Linked DNA regions of Homo sapiens: region 1 is linked to region 2. The links come from fine-mapping of genetic effects on gene expression. Tissue or cell type: whole blood. Region 2 holds a variant in brackets; the other region holds the start of a gene. All regions are shown on one strand. Distances are from middle to middle.

Region 1 (8,100 bases), 290 kb after region 2:
CTAAAAATGTTTACAAAAGAACAGACTGTCTGAACAAACAAAAAAACCCCACCCCGTTAAGCTGGGTAGGACCAATCAGGCCTTATAAGTGAAAAAAAAGCCTTCTATCGAGCATAATGAAACAGAACATGTACTGCTTGTGTTTGAACCTTACTCTTATTTAACCAAAAATTTCCCCTTTCTCATAATTTTCCTAGTATTATGTAAGGTTATGCCTAGTTCTAGATTCTGAAAGACCTGCATTTTAATGCTTGCACAACCCATTTAAAATCTACAAAAGCTGCCTCTATTTTGTTTTCTGATTAAAAACGCAAAAAAAAGGACAAACCAAACAAACCACACCACATCATACAGATAATGATCCGAATGGAAAAGTTAACGTGCTGTAATGATATTTGTCTTGCAACATCAAAAGCAGCAGATACTGAATAGAATTTGCTTCAATCATAAATACTGAGACTGAAATATGCACGTATAAATCAATGAACTGAAAGCTCTCTATACATAGAAGCACATATGAAGTGCAAAACAGTATCAAAAGTGAGATCTCTGGTATTTCAGTACTCCCATTCATCAGATTTCAGGTCGAGATAGCTGAGAATATTCTGCGCAAGCCTCACAGCTTGTTTCCTGGCAGCCTTACACTTCTCTTCTCCCTGCGGATCAACAGCATCCAGGGCTAGCAGCTGCTTGGTGAGCAGCTCTTCCAGCCGGATGTAGTTCTTATCGGTTCGATTTCCATCAAATGAAAGAACTTCTCCCTGGATCTCAGACAAGTTTCCAAGGACGTTCCAGACGGCTTTATGGGATGGGTGCTCCTCACAAGCAAACAGCTTTCTTTTCTCAAGGGCCTCCTTCAAGTCAATATATGTGATCAGAGTTTGCACCTCGATCACTGCTCTTCTCCTGGCTTCCCGGATGCAGGGGTTTTTTTCAAGACTTACCTCATCCAACTGTCCAATTAAACCCTGCAATTCTGTTTTGGAGCTCAGGTACAATTCAGAAGGGTTTTGTGCTTGGAGAAGTTCATTTTTTATTTCTCTCATTCTCTTGAGGACCTTTTCTATTTTTAAAATGGAATGATTCTGTCTCAGGTCAAATGCTTTAGTTGTGTCTGCTTCCTCTTCCAAATCCAGATATTTCAATAATTTGTTGATATCTTCTACTACCTCCCTCCGATAATTTCTGATTTCTGTCCGGCCGCACACATCTAGAGCATCCAGGTCAGCGATCAGCCCCGAGAGCACACAGGATAAGTGCCTGCAGGTCTCATTGTTGTTCACACCCATCAGAAGTGCAATCAGGACCCCTCGGGCCTTGTTCACCTCACACATCACGAAGTTGATTTTGGCAACGGAAGGATGTGCATCCTCGGAAAGCGGCAGGGAAGGCTGCTTTTTCATGCAGTCTTCGATTATCTCTTGCACCGCACAGATTTTGGTTAAAGTGTGATACCTTGCTTTCCGCAAGGAGATTTTTCCTCCAGTTTTAACATGTGTCAGCCTCAGAATGATATCTTGGATGCCTTCTTCAAACTCATCAGTTACGCAGTTGCCTCCATTATAAAATGGCACAATTTTCTCTCTCACGAGGGACTGGGCTTCCTCAAAAATGTTCTGTATTTCAATCCGGTGTGGGTGGTTTGCATTCTGCTCCAACTCTTTGAGAAGACGTTCTGTCTCCTGTGCTGCCCGCTTCCTAGCTTGCTGAATATCTCCTTTTCCTTCAGTATCTACAGAGTCTATTTCAAAAAGCTGTTTTGTTAGAATCCTCTCCAGTTTCTTGTAATTCTTGTCATCTGACAGACCACTGAAGCCGATAACTTGCTGTTCTACACTTTTTACTTCCTTTTGGATTTCCTGAAGCCTACTAATAGAAGGATGTTGGTTTCCCATATCCATACTTTTGTTGTGTTCAGTTTCACAAGCACTAAAAGACGACAAGAATGATAACTTACTACAGCACAAGGCTTCTGCAGAACACTAATGGTATATTAAGTCATTCTAAAATTCTCATTTTAAAAAGGTATACTTCTGAGCAGTCATCCCACCTCAGCCTCCCCAGTAGCTGGGTCTACAGTCGTACACCACTACGCCCAGCTAATGTTATTTTTAGTAGAGACAGGTCTCACTATATTGCCCAGGCTGGTCTCAGACGATCCGCCCGCCTCCGCCTCCCAAAGTGCTGGGATTAAGGTGTGAGTCACCGTACGCGACACAAACTATTTGGAACCAGCAGGGCACCTTTATGAAAGGTGAAACAGTAGCTCTTGTAACCTTCCGAACACTAACAGTACCCCGCCCCGCCACACAGCTATGCCTAGTTTCCAGAAACTCTAAGCAAAAGAAAGAACCAGAACAAAAACCAGTGGCTCTCAGACATCCCCAAGGTCCCCGCTTCTTCGTTTCTCTCCATCCCTTTGTGCACTTCCCCTCCCCACCCTTTTAGCTCCTCACACATCTTCCCTCACAGAAGTCTCCCTGAAGAGATTAAAACCCCACAGGTAAAGAAGAGCGACCGGGACAGCGCTGAAGGGCACCACCTTGGGCTTTCGAGGCCCAACACCTCCTCAGCCCCCAACATGCTCCACTCTCTCAAAAAAAAACAACCCGCGAAAACGTGGTAACTATGAATAATTCATTCACTCGCCTCCCACTGGGAGTCCACAATGGCCTAATGCACGTTTCAAGCTCTTGGTTTCTATCAAACGGCTCGCTCAAGGTGGGTAACCAATGGAAACGCATAATCTATCCCCGGCGGATGTCCTGGAGGCCACGGAGGGAAGGCGGCCCGAGCTGCTTCCTCCCCGCCTCGCCCTTCCCTCTTGGCCCTTTACCCAAAAGAAGTCTGAATTGGATGCGGTCTTGGCGTCCCGTGGCTGAGGTGGCGAGGTGGAAGATCAGCCCTTTACGGGGTGCGGCACCGGAGCTGGGCCCCCAGCTGCATGCCTCGCACCCCTCCCGACTAGGTCTGAGCGGGGCAGCCGGTGAAGGGGCCGCTACTGGCTGCAGCAGCCGCTCCGGGCGTCTTGGCCCGGGTGCCAGGGCGCGCCTGCAGGACGTGACCTCACAATGGGCGCGCGAGGGGAGCTCGGCCCGGCCGGGGGAAGCCGGGGGAGGAGGGGAACCGAGGCCCGGCCGGAGACACCAGAGACCAGGCCCGGCCAGCCCCGGTCGCTTCCGACCCCAGGGGCGGGGACAGCGCCGAGACCGACTCTGCCCTGCCTGATCCGACAGGCCGCACGGGGCTGGGCGCTGGCGAAGGGGTGGCCCAGCGGGGAGCCCCGCGCGGAGGTGGTGCCCCACTCGTCCCCCCGAGAGAGGGAAAAGGCTACAAGCCGCGCTTCGCTCACCTGTCCCGCCCGCGCCATCGCGCGATGCGTCGCCGACGCTTCCACGACTTCCGCAGCTCCGGCAGTCGCCCGGGCCCGGCAGCCCCGCCCCTGGCCGAACACCCCTAAACCCGGGGACACCTCCTCCGGCGTCCGCGCCTAGCCGCCGGCAGCGCCACGCCCACCGCCAGCGGCGCAGCGAGGCAGCCTGGAGTGACCGCGACCAAGGAGCGGCCGCCCGGGTCAGCCCGCGCCGCCCGCCGCCCCCTCACCCCGTCGCACCGCTGGGAAAGCGCACGGTCGGCCGCGCCGCCGCGCTTCCTCGGGCTTCGCGACCCTGCCGTAAAGCGGCCCCTCGCGCCGTCGCAATGCTGCCGTGCGCCGCGGGAGCCAGGGGGCGTGGGGCCATGGTGGTCTTGCGGGCGGGGAAGAAGACCTTTCTCCCCCCTCTCTGCCGCGCCTTCGCCTGCCGCGGCTGTCAACTCGCTCCGGAGCGCGGCGCCGAGCGCAGGGATACGGCGCCCAGCGGGGTAAGCAGGGGCCTGGGGACATTGGGCCGGGAGGGGTGACCGGAAGGGAAGACAAACCCGGGCCTCGGGGCCACTCCCTGTTCTGCACAGCCGCCTCAGGCCTTTGTCCAGGTGCTCTCGCGTCCTATCCCGAACAGTCCCGCAGCCCCGAGGCTCCCGCATCAACGCCCTCAGTCGGATGGGACTGAGGGTGCCGCCGCCACCACGCCGGGGACTGTTGACAGCCAGAACCTTTAAGCGTAACAGAGTCACCTGGCAAGTTTGTACCTACCTTATTTGTTCCCGAGAATGATTATTTTTTATTTTTAAAGAGCTCTTGGCTTACCGTGCGTTTTTTTTCGTTGTGTGTGTGTGTGTTTTGGCTTTGTTACAATTATTAGTGCTTTTCTTCAAGCGGCGAGCACTTTATCATCGTACTTTTGTAGCACTTCACGTTGAATAGTTGTTATTTGCAAACTATGTGTGGGTATATGCATGTTACTGGCCAAAGATCCGCAAAGAATGTCTGTAGCAAGAATGTCTGTGGCAAGCAATTTTTATAAGTGGTACTTTTGGGAGGGATGTTTTGTTTAAGGGAGGCCTAGGCCTTGATTCCGTCTGTCAGATGAAAATGTTGACTAACGGTGTGGAATGGGCTGGAGATAAAATATTCAAGCAAAGCATGCAAATACCAAACAGGCTAATGAAGGAGGCTGGAAAACTTGGTTTAAACAATAATTAAAGAAGTATTAAAAAAGTGTTAATTAAAAATTGGACGGGCTCCGTGGCTCACGCTTGTAATCCCAGCACTTTGGGAGGCCGAGGCAAGCGGATCACGAAATCAAGAGGTGAGACCATCCTGCCCAACATGGTGAAACGTCTCTGCTAAAAATACAGAAATTAGCTGGGCATAGTGGCGCGCGCCTGTAGACCCAGCTACTCGGGAGGATGAGGCAGGAAAATCGCTTGAACCCGGGAGACGGAGGTTGCTGTGAGTCGAGATCGCGCCACTGCACTCCAGCCTGGCGACAGAGGGAGACTTCATCTCAAAAAAAAAAAAGCTAATTAAAAATTGCAAATGTACTTGCTTGTACATTTTCATTTCTGTTGGGCTGTGGCTGTTAGTACACTTTCATAATTGTAGCTTTGAAGGTCTATCTAGTTTACAATTTAAACAAGGAGTTACCAGGGCAACTTGCCAACCAGACACCCAAGTGGCTAGCTCAGTTCTGTGTTACAGTGACCAAGTCCTTGCCTTCTATCCCTAGAACATAGAAACCCACCCAGCATCTCTATCTTTGGGCAGAAAGATAGAGCAGGTGTCTGAAAATGCTCTAAGAGAGCAAACGGGAAATCAACCAAGACATTTCCCGGGCGGGGGGGATTTTCCCTAGCTTATTTTGTGAACTTGTGCTGGAAAGAAACAACAGCACCCAAATAAGGATTTCTCTATTGTCATATACACTTCTTTTTTTTTTTTTTTTTTTTTTTTTTGAGTTGGAGTCTCCCTCTGTCGCCCAGGTGGGAGTACAGTGGCGTGATCTCAGCTCACTGCAACCTCTGCCTCCCGGGCTCAAGCGATTCTCGTGCCTCAGCCTTCCGAGTAGCTGGGACTACAGGGGCCCACCACCATGCCCGGCTAATTTTTTTGTATTTTTAGTAGAGACAGGGTTTCACCTGTTGGCCAGGCTGGTTTCAAACTCCTGACCTCAAGTGATGCGCCTGCCTGGGCCTCCCAAAGTGCTAGGATTACAAGTGTGAGCCACCACTCTCAGCCTTAGACTTCTTGTTAAAGTAAAATAAATCTTACCATGGGTCTGTTCTCAAGATGAGAGACCTCTCTGCCTTGTTCGTTTTTTCTTTTTTCGAGATGGAGTTTTTGCTCTGTTGCCCAGGCTGGAGTGCAATGGCGCAGTCTCGGCTCACTGCAACCTTTGCCTACTGGGTTCAAGCAATTCTCCTGCCGCAGCCTCCTGAGTATAGCTGGGATCACAGGCGCATGCTGCCACGCCTGGTTAATTTTTTTTTCTTTTTTTAGTAGAGATGGGGTTTCACTATGCTGGCCAGGCAGGTCTCGAACTCCTGACTTCAGGTGATCCACCCGCCTTGGCCTCCCAAAGTGCTGAGATTATAAGTGTGAGCCACCATGCCCAGCCAGCACCAGCTTTTAATTGAAAAATATTATAGAACTTAAGAGTCAGGCACCATTCTTCCTTCCAAATCCATCTTTAAAACTCAGCTTTTCAGAAATATAACTGCTTTTGGTAAAGAAAAAAAAATTAAGACTTTTAAATTCTGTTCCCTAGCCACTTCATGCCTGCTTATGTCTTACCTATGTAGTTTGCATCATTGGTTCCTAAACTTGTTTGCACGTAAGAATTAGTCTGACTCTTTTAGTTCTTTTTTTTTCTTTAATCCGGAAGTTCCTGAACCAGAATAGGTTCAGAGATACTCCCTTTTAGTTCTTTTTAATCCATAGGTTCTGCCTCCATCACCTCCCCACCTTTTTTTTTAATTTTTTTTTTTTTTTGAGATGGAGTCTTGCTCTGTCACCCAGGCTGGAGTGCAGTGGCGTGATCTCAGCTCACTGCAACCTCCACCGCCCGGGTTCAAGCAATTCTCCTGCCTCAGCCTCCTGAGTAGCTGGGATTACAGGTGCCTACCACCATGCCCGGCTAATTTTTGTATTTTTTGTAGAGACGGGTTTCACCATGTTGGCCAGGGTGGTCTTGAACTCCTGACCTCAGGTGATCTGCTCACCTCAGCCTCCCAAAGTGCTGGGATTACAGGTATGAGCCACTGTGCCTGGCCCAAAGTCACTTTTAGCTTCAAAAATGAGCTGTAGGGTATGCCTTCTTTTCCTGTTTCCGTGGATTGTTTACTAAGGTTTGAATTTTTCTGTGACTGGTAGAACCTACAAGTCATTTGAACCTGAGTTTTCATAAGAACAAGCCATTTTAACCCCATCTTCTTTTTGGTTAGAGTTTAACCCCATCTTCTTTCTGGTTAGAGTTACTAAACTGGTAAATAAGAGTGATCCGGCCAGGCATGGTGGCTCACACCTTGCCAGCACTTTGGGAGACTGAGGCAGGCAGATCACCTGAGGTCAGGAGTTCAAGACCAGCCCGGCCAACATGGTGAAATCCTGTCTCTACAAAAATACAAAAATTAGCCGGGCATGATGGTGGTACCTGTAATCCCAGCTAGTTGGGAGGCTGAGGCGGGAGAATCGCTTGAACCCAGGAGGCAGAGGTTGCAGTGAGCCGAGATCGCGCCATTGCACTCCAGCCTGGGCGATGGACCAAGACTCATTCTCAAAAAGAAAAAAAAGAGTGAGCCATTGCATATTGATTTAAACAAGACATCTGATAAAGTCTCATGTATTTTTGAAAACCGTGTCCTGTATTGTGGTGCTTAAAACACCAATGGAAACATTTGTCTCAGGGTGGTTGGCATTTCCTGCACAGGTTCTTCATGAGGTGCCAGAGATACAGAAATGAATGTGTGTGCCTCTTTTCACACATGCACAGATGGCTCTCCAGGCAGGAGCTCTGCATGCTAACACATGCCTCCCTGGTGCCTAGAGCAGTGCTTGGCCTTTGCATGGTGGTGCAGGGGCAGGCAGGTTGATGCTTATGGAGAATGGCTGAATCCACCATGTCCATCTTTGGAATCTATCAGAAGTTTATTGTTTGCAGCTCCAGGCAGGGTCTCCTGAGGATGCAAGGGAGCACCACCCTGGGCCTGCCTGTTGGGCACCTAACTTCTGAGAGGAGGAGGGTTGGAACAAGTCCACAAATAACCATATTTTTCCCTTTTTTGGACATAGGGTCTTGCTCTGTTGCCCAGGCTGGAGTGCAGTGGCACAAACATAGCTCACCACAGCCTCAACCTCACTGGCTCAAGTAATCTTCCTGCCTCAGCCTCTTTAGTAGCTGGGGCTACAGGCATGTGCCACCGCACCTGGCTGATTTTTAAAATTTTTTTGGCAGGGCGCGGTGGCTCGTGCCTGTAATCTCAGCACGTTGGAAGGCCGAGGCAGGTGGATCATCTGAGGTCAGGAATTCAAGACCAGCCTGGCCAACGTGGTGAAACACCGTCTCTACTGAAAATACAAAAATTAGCCGGGCGTGGTGGCGCATGCCTGTAATCCCAGCTACTCGGGAGGCTGAGGCAGGAGAATTGCTTGAACCTGGTAGGCGGAGGCTGCAGTGAGCCAAGATCGCGCCACTGCACTCCAGCCTGGGCAACAATGCGAGA
Region 2 (8,100 bases):
ACTATGTACGTGAGTAACGCTTAGCTTCAGTTTAAAAAATACAAGGACGGACACTGATTAAGAAAAGCAATTTTTGGCCGGGCGCGGTGGCTCACGCCTGTAATCCCAGCACTTTGGGAGGCCGAGGCAGGCAGATCACAAGGTCAGGAGATCGAGACCATCCTGGCTAACATGGTGAAACCCCGTCTCTACTAAAAATACAAAAACAAAATAGCCAGGTGTGGTGGCGGGCGCCTGTAGTCCCAGCTACTCGCGAGGCTGAGGCGGGAGAATGGCGTGAACCCGGGAGGCGGAGCTTGCAGTGAGCTGAGATCGCGCCACTGCACTCCAGCCCGGGCGACAGAGCGAGACTCTGTCTCAAAAAAAAAAAAAAAAAAAAAAAAAAAAAAAAAAAAAAAAAAAAAAAAAGGAAAGAAGGAAAGGAAAGGCAAGGAAAAGGCAAGGAAAAGGCAAGGCGGCGCAAGGCGGGGCAAGGCGAGGCAAGGCAAGGCAAGTGGGGCCTGTCCTCCACCTGGGCTCCAGCGGTGACACAGGACGTCCCGCCGCTTCCAGCTTCCGCGTACCTGCGCGCACACCGGGTCCCCCGCGGCCTCGCCCTCGTCCATGACCTCCAGAGCCCCGCGCCGCGCCCCCGCCCGATCCGCGGAGGCCTCCAAGCAGCCGATGCCCTCGCCAAGCCTGGGTGGTCCAGAAGGACGCGCCCGCTCCGGGGCGCAGAGCTCTTGAGGTCGTGGGCGGGCGCAGGGCCCCGGCGGATACTTGGCAGAGGCTTGGGGTCGTGGCGGGGGCGCCTCCCTTCCGGTGCGCGAAAAAGCAAACGCGACGCGCGGGCTGCAGAGACTGGGCCGGGCGGAGGAGACCCCCAGCCTGGGTTGAGCGGGGCGGATCTGGGACTCCGAGGCTTCCTACGTGGGGCGGGTTCCCAGCGGACGCCTCTGCCGCACCCCTGGCGGGGACCCAGCTGCGCCCCTTCCCGCGGCCCTCCTAGGGCCTGGGTGCTTGGAGGCTCGAGGCCCCAAGATCCATGTCGCCCGGAATCCCGGTGCCTAGGCCTTGTCGCGGGCCCTGGGACCAACTCGCGGGGGTCAGGAGCTGGGGGTTGAGAGAAAGATGATCAGGTGGGTTGGAGAAAGGAGACGCTTCCCGCTGGGCGAGTGAGCCCAGGACGCGGCAGAAGAGGGCAGACCCTAGGGGACCGCCGCGTCCCCAGGCGCGCACGCGACCCCTCCCCGCGCCGAAAATCCTCTCCCCGCCTCAGTCTCCCCGCCTCCGCCTCCCCACCCATAGTGTCACTCCGACCCTAGCCCTGGGTCCAAACGGGCAGGAGAGGTCGCTGGTGCCTCCGCGGTCCCCGCCGCGCGCAGAACTCGGCCGAGTGCACCGGGGTCTCCTGGCCTCTGCGCGCAGCTGGTCCTGCAGCGTCAGGACCCGAACGACCCCGAGGCCCCAGGGGCTGGGCCCTCCAGCAGCCCCGCAGCAGCCCCGCAGCAGCCCCGGCAGGCACCCTCCAGCGGCCGTGGGCGCCTGGTAGCTATGGAGGCGGTAGAGGTGGAAACCAGGCCTCTGTCTTCACACAGGAGGAACTCCAGGCCCTCGTTTAGGACTCCAGGCCAAAGGCTGTGTCAGCCGCGGGTCCCCCGCCACCCCACGCGCACAGGCGCAGGCCTCACACCGCGTGCCCGACGACGCCCCGAGGGGCCCCGGTCGCAGTTAGTTTGAAGGGAATCGGTGGTACAGATCGTGGCTTGGAGAACGCGGCTTGACCTGCGGCCAGAATCAGACTCATTCCGAACACGCGGCGGCCCTGGCCCAGCTGGCCCCTCCCACGCTCCCGCGGGGATTCTCCTGCAGCCGGAGCCCCTCCCCCCACTCGTGCCCTCTTCCCATCAAGCCCTGGTCCCCAGGTGACCGGCATAGGAGACTCCTGTCCCTTCAGGCGAAGCCCAGCGCCTCCCTCTTCGGGTGGTCTCGCCTTTTGGCTTCAAGAAGTCAATCTCAGACAGTCTAGTTTGTTCAGCTTGCATGAATTTTAAGGTATTTTAAGAGCACTTTTCTTTATATTTTGATAACATTTATTTCTTAAAATTACAAATGCAGTATATTCTGGTTTTGAAATCAGTTCATAGTAGGAGATGTTCAAACAAAAGAATAACCAAACAACCAAGTAAATTACTGAGTCGATCATGGGAGCCACCATTTTTTCTCCAGCCTTTTTTTTTTTCCAGAATGCCTTTTCCTACCAGATTTTATATAATTTAATGTTATCCCTCCCCCCAAATAATTTTTAATAAAAATCAAAAAGAACCACCATCACTGTTTACAACTTGTTTTTTAAAAATATTGAAAACCACCCCCTACCTCCACCCTCCACTTCCAATCCCCCAGGAGTAACTAGTAGTAACATTTTCCAAATATACATATCTATATTGATAAATATGTGACCTTATTTTACATATTCTTATGAGGTGACTGTTCAGGTCTCTTGCCCATTTTTATATTCAGCTGTCTTTTTCTTATTGGTATGTAGTTCTTTCTATATTCTGGATAGGAATACTTTGTCAGTAATATTGGACTGCAAATCTCTTCTCCAACTGTGCAGTTTGCCTTTTTACTCTGTCAATGGTGTCTTTTGATTAAGAGAAACTCTCAGTGTTAACATAATCAAATGTATTATCCTTTCCTTTATGATCAATGCTATGGTCTATGTAATAAGCACTTCTCTTCCCAGAGTTCATGAAAATCTTCTGTTATGTTATCTTCTCTAACCCTTGTTGCTTTGCCTTTTGCAGCTAGAGCTACCATATATCTGGATTTTGTTTTTGTATATTAAGTTTTCTTTGTGTCCACCATCTGTTGATCAACCATCCTATTACATTTGTTGAAAGGACCATTCTTCCCCTACCATCATTAGGCAGTGCCCTCTCTGTTCTATTTGTCTGTCTTTCTACACTATTTGCTGTCGCTTTATTGTAAATCTTATAACTTTATTGTAAATCTTGATGCCTCTGGTGGACCAAAATCTTCCCACCTTATTATTCTTTTTAAAGAATATTTTGCCTAACTTTGGTCCTATGCATCTCTATACAAGCTTTAGAATCAGCTTGATGGACTGCAATCAAAATACTTGCCAGAATTTGATTAGGATTACATTGAAGCAAATTGGTTTCAGAAAAATTAACATATTTTAAATATTGAGTCTTTTAATCCATGAACATGTTTGTCTGTTTCTCTTTAATCTATCACAATAATGTCTCATAGTTTTCTGCATAGAAGTCATGTACATCTTTTGTTAGATTGTTACCTAGGTATTTGCTGTCTTTTGATGCTATTAAAATGCATTTTTATTTTGCTCTTGCTTGTTATTTTTGTATTGTTGGTCTATAGAGTTGCAAATGATTTTTATGTGTTGGCTTTGTAACCAGCAACCTTGTTAAACTCTCTTATTCATTTTAACAATTTATGCCAGGCACAGTGGCTCATGCCTGTAATCTCAGCACTTTGGGAGGCCAAGGTGGGAGGACTGCTTGAGCCCAGGAGTTCCAGACTGGCCTGAACAACATAGTGAGACTCAGTCTCTACAAAAAAAAAAAAAAAAAAAAATTAAGTTAGCCAAGCCTGGTGGCACACGGCTGTGGTTCCAGCTACTTTGGAGGCTGAGACGAGAAGATCACTTGAGCCAAGGAGGTCGAGGTTGCAGTGAGCTATGATCGTGCCACTGTGCTCCAGCCTGTGTGACACAGCAAGACTCTCTGTCTCAAGAAAAAAAAGAAATACTAGATTTTTCACCTGGTTAGATGATTAAAAAACAAAGAAGAAAGAAAAAGAAAATGTAAAAAGAAAAAATTATTAGACATTTTTATATTTTCAATGAACATATATCAGCTACATAATGAGAGTATTATGCCTTTTGTTTCTTTTCCTGGCCTTAGTCACATTGTTGAAAACCTCAGTGCAGCGTTAAGTAGAAGTGGAGATAGTGGGAAACTTGACAAAAGTGTGTATAATATTTATTATGTACGGTATGATATTTACTAGAAACTTCCTGTATCTATCTTAAATAGACTGAGGACATTTTCTTTTATTCCCAGGTGGCTAACAGTCTTTTTGTCATGAATGGATGTTGAATTTTATCAAATGCTTTTCCCACAGCTACTCAGATGGTCATATGATTTTTCTTTTCTATTCTTTTACATGACCATTTAAATT[T/C]ATTTTTAGCATATTAAGTTAATCTTACATCCCTGTGTTAAAGTCCACTTAATCGTAGTGTGTTATCTTTTTTAATTTAACACTGAATTTATTTTATTTAGGATTTTCACACCTGTGAATGTGTGAGTGTATGTGAGACTGGCCTGTAAATTTCCTTTTTCATGATGTCCTTGTCTGATTGATAGCAAGGTTACCCTGCTCTCATAAAACAAGTTCCCTCTTTTTCTAGTCTCTGAGAGAGGTCTTTTCTTTTTTGTAAAATGAACTCTTTTTTTCTCCCTTAAATGTTTGTTACAATTAATCAGAGAAGACATTGGAACCTACAGCTTTCATGTGGGAAGTTTTTAATTATATACTCAATGTATTTAATAGATATGGAACTATTCTGATCTGTTACTTTAATTTTAGCTTAATTAGTTATATATTTTAGGAGTTTTTTCTTTTCATCTAAATTTTCAAAGACCCAACATCTGGCTTTGTTGATCCTCTCTGTTCTTGTTTTCAAATAATTTGTGCTTTATTTTATTTTTTCTTTTCTTTTCTTTTTTTTTTTTTTTTTTTTTCTTGCTAGAGACAGGGTCTTGCTCCATTGCCCAGGCTGGAGTGCAGTATCAGAATCTCAGCTCAGTGCAGCTTTGACATCCTGGGCTCAAGAAATCCTCCCACCCCAGCCTCCAGAGTAGCTGGGACTGGGACTACAAATGCATACCACCTTGTCCAGCTAATTGTTATTTACTTTCTTCTACTTTATTTGGAATTAATTTACTGGATATTTTTCTTCCTTTTTTTTTTTTTTTTTTTTTTTCGAGACAGCCTAGGCTGTCGTCTAGGCTGCTGGAGTACAGTGGCACAATGACAGCTCACTGCTGACTTGACCTCCCTGGGCTCAGGTGATCCTCCCACCTCAGCCTCCTGAGTAGCTAGGACCACAGGCATGCACCACCATGCCCAACTAATTTTGTATTTTTTGTAGAGATGGTGGTGTGGTTTGGCCGTGTCCCCACCCAAATCTCATCTTGAATTGTAGTTCCCATGATCCCTGTGTGTCATGGGAGGGACCCAGTGGGAGGTAATTGAATCATGGGGGCGGTTACCTCCATGCTGCTGTTCTCAGGATAGTCAATGAGTTCTCACAAGAGCTGATGCTTTTATAAGGGGTTTCCCCCCCTTTTGCTCAGCACTTCTTCCTGCCCCCATGTGAAGAAGGACTTGTTTGCTTCTCCTTCCACCATGATCGTAAGTTTCCTGAGGCCTGCCCAGCCCTGCGGAACTGTGAGTCAGTTAAACCTTTTTCCTTTATAAATTACGCAGTCTCGGGTATTTCTTCATAGTAGCGTGAGAACAGACTAACATAGACGTGGTCTCACTATGTTGCCAGGGCTGGTCTCGAACTCCCTGGGCTCAAACGATCTACCCACTTCAGCCTCCCCAAGTGTTGGGATTACAGGTGTGAGCCATCTCACCCTGCCTCCTTTCGACTTCTCGAGATGAATATTTATCTCACTGATTTTTTTGGCTCCTCTTCTTTTCCATTATAAAAAATGTGAAACTGAAATTTGCCCCTAAAAATGGCTTTAGCTGCTTCTCACAGATTTGATGTATGCTTGTTTTTCCTTTTTTTCTTTTTTTTTTTTTTTCTTTTGAGACGGAGTCTCGCTCTGTCGCCCAGGCTGGAGTGCAGTGGCGCGATCTCAGCTCACTGCAAGCTCCGCCTCCCGGGTTCCCGCCATTCTCCTGCCTCAGCCTCGCGAGTAGCTGGGACTACAGGCGCCCGCCACCACGCCCGGCTATTTTTTGTATTTTTAGTGGAGACGGGGTTTCACCGTGTTAGCCAGGATGGTCTCGATCTCCTGACCTCGTGATCCGCCCGCCTCGGCCTCCCAAAGTGCTGGGATTGACAGGCCTGAGCCACCGCGCCCGGCCAACTTGTTTTTCTTTCTCACTGGAGCTGGTTCCAGATTAGATCTGGTCGGACCCGGCAGGCACCTGGCGGGCACTGTGCGGGCAGGGAACCAGGGAGAGCAGGAGGGCGCGGGTCCGGGCCAAGGCTGGCGGGGGTCGCCGCGGCGCGACCGCCTCCTCCGCCCCGGCTCCGTGGGATGCGCGTCCGCCCTCCCAGGCCCCTTCCTCCCGCCCTCCCCCGCCCCCCGTTTTCCTCCCCTCCCCTCCCGACCCGCCCCAGGCCAGACCCCCGCGCGGGTCCTCGCCCTCCCAGGACCCTTCCTCCCTCCCCTCCCCTCCCCGCCGCGTCCCGGACCCTGCGGGCTGGTCCCGCGCCCCGCCAGGGCTGCCGGGGTGTGCTGCTGGGGAGCGTGGAGTGGGCAGGACCACGCTGGACACGCAGTTCGCGTGCGGCCGCTCCCCGAGCAGTGCGCGGCGTGGGCGGAGGAGCGGCTCCGCGAGGAGATCGAGGCGAACGCGGCGCCCGCGTTGCTGGAGGTCGTGGACGCGGCGGGCGCCGAGCACCTGGTCACGCTCCAGGACCTGGACATCCGCCACGGCGACGGCTCCGCGGTGCTCCCGGGCGTGTGCAGCGAGGCCTCGTTCCGGGCCGTGAGGCCGCCGAGCAAGCGCCTGCGCCGGCCGTGGGAACCCGGGGCCGTCCCGCGGGTGCTGGTGGGCACCCAGGCCGACCCGGACGACGGGCGCCAGGTGCTGACGGCGCGGGGCCGCGAGGGGCGCTCCCCGTTCCCGGAGGTCATGGCCAAGAGCCAGCGGATGGTGGACCGGGTGTTCATGCAGGCGGTGCGCGAGACGGAGGCCTTGGTCCCGCCCGAGGAGGAGGTGGAGTGTTGGGAAGTTTTCTGTTGTCCCCTGGACTCCATCCAGAAAAAGATGGCCCTGGTGGCAGCCTCGAAGCGCGGGGAGGGAGGCTAGGACTGGGGCCGCGTCGGGAACTGAGCCTGCCGGGACGCTTCTAACCCGCGCGCTGCCTCGAGTCCCTCCGGTGCCCAGGCCTTGTTCCCCAAGACCCACGGGTGCAGAGCAGAAGCGCGGCCCCAGCGCCCGAGGCCTGAAAGCTGTTCTTTACCTTCGCAGCTTTCCAAGTTACTATAATAGGTAAAAGGCAAGGGCTAACGTCTTAAGTATTTAATCGATTTCCTTATGCAGATTCTGCACTCGTAATTACTAAACGTGAGAGCCCAGGATGAACTATTCGGTGCATTTTTTATTTTTTTGAGACTGTCGCCAGGCTGGAGTTCAGTGGCGATCTCGGTGATCTCAGCTCACTGCAACCTCCGCCTCCCCGGTTCAAGCGATTATCCTGCCTCAGCCTCCCAAGTAGGTGGGACTACAGGCATGTGCCACCACGCCCGGCTAATTTTTGTATTTTTAGTAGAGACGGGGTTTCACCATGTTGGCCAAGATGGTCTCGATCTCTTGACCTCGTGATCCGCCTGCCTCGGCCTCCCGAAGTGCTGGGATTACAGGCGTGAGCCACGGTGCCTGGCCTATTGGGTGCATCTTAAAGCAGCGATATACAGGATAGTAAATGGAAACGGAAACGACTACTTCTGTATTTTAACTAACAACAGTGATTCATTCTGTTGGCAGTTTTTCTTCTTTAAAAGATGCCTTACTGCTTTAAGCCTGAATGGGCAGAATGTGCTTTCTTCAAATGCAATTTGTGGTATGTTTTTTTGAACTACCTGGTTCTGAGAATTACAGTTTGGATTTGGAGCACTTCGCCGAAGTTTAGATCTTAGTTCCATGAAGTTTCCATCTCATTTTCAGTGATGAATTGAGCAATCACTTTTTCCTTTCTGTGTGGTCCTAAATATAGTTACGACCTACTTAGCACAACCTTGCAATTGGATATGTGTCGCTGGCAAATTAATTTTATACCTAAAGTGAGCCCAGCGCTGGCTGTCAGTTTTGTAATTAACATCTGGT

What was found. PIP is the estimated chance that this variant, and not a neighbour inherited with it, causes the effect.
Region 1: it holds the start of COA8, and the variant in region 2 is fine-mapped to the expression of COA8 in whole blood (TOPMed, PIP 0.98).

What each region holds. Positions count from the first base shown.
Region 1 is chr14:103,559,264-103,567,363 of GRCh38, forward strand. COA8 (cytochrome c oxidase assembly factor 8) reads left to right here and starts at 3,697. Exons shown (of 5, transcript NM_001370595.2): 1 at 3,697-3,861. The coding sequence starts at 3,739. BAG5 (BAG cochaperone 5) reads right to left here and starts at 3,394. Exons shown (of 2, transcript NM_001015048.3): 1 at 3,353-3,394; 2 at 1-1,929. The coding sequence starts at 1,901. The coding sequence ends at 558. RefSeq lists enhancers at 1,999-2,512, 2,612-2,661 and a silencer at 3,002-3,651.
Region 2 is chr14:103,272,720-103,280,819 of GRCh38, forward strand. It overlaps the pseudogene RAP2CP1. Among named protein-coding and RNA genes, the nearest start is that of EIF5, 57 kb to the right of the region's middle. The variant T/C (reference allele first, on the strand shown) is at 4,207.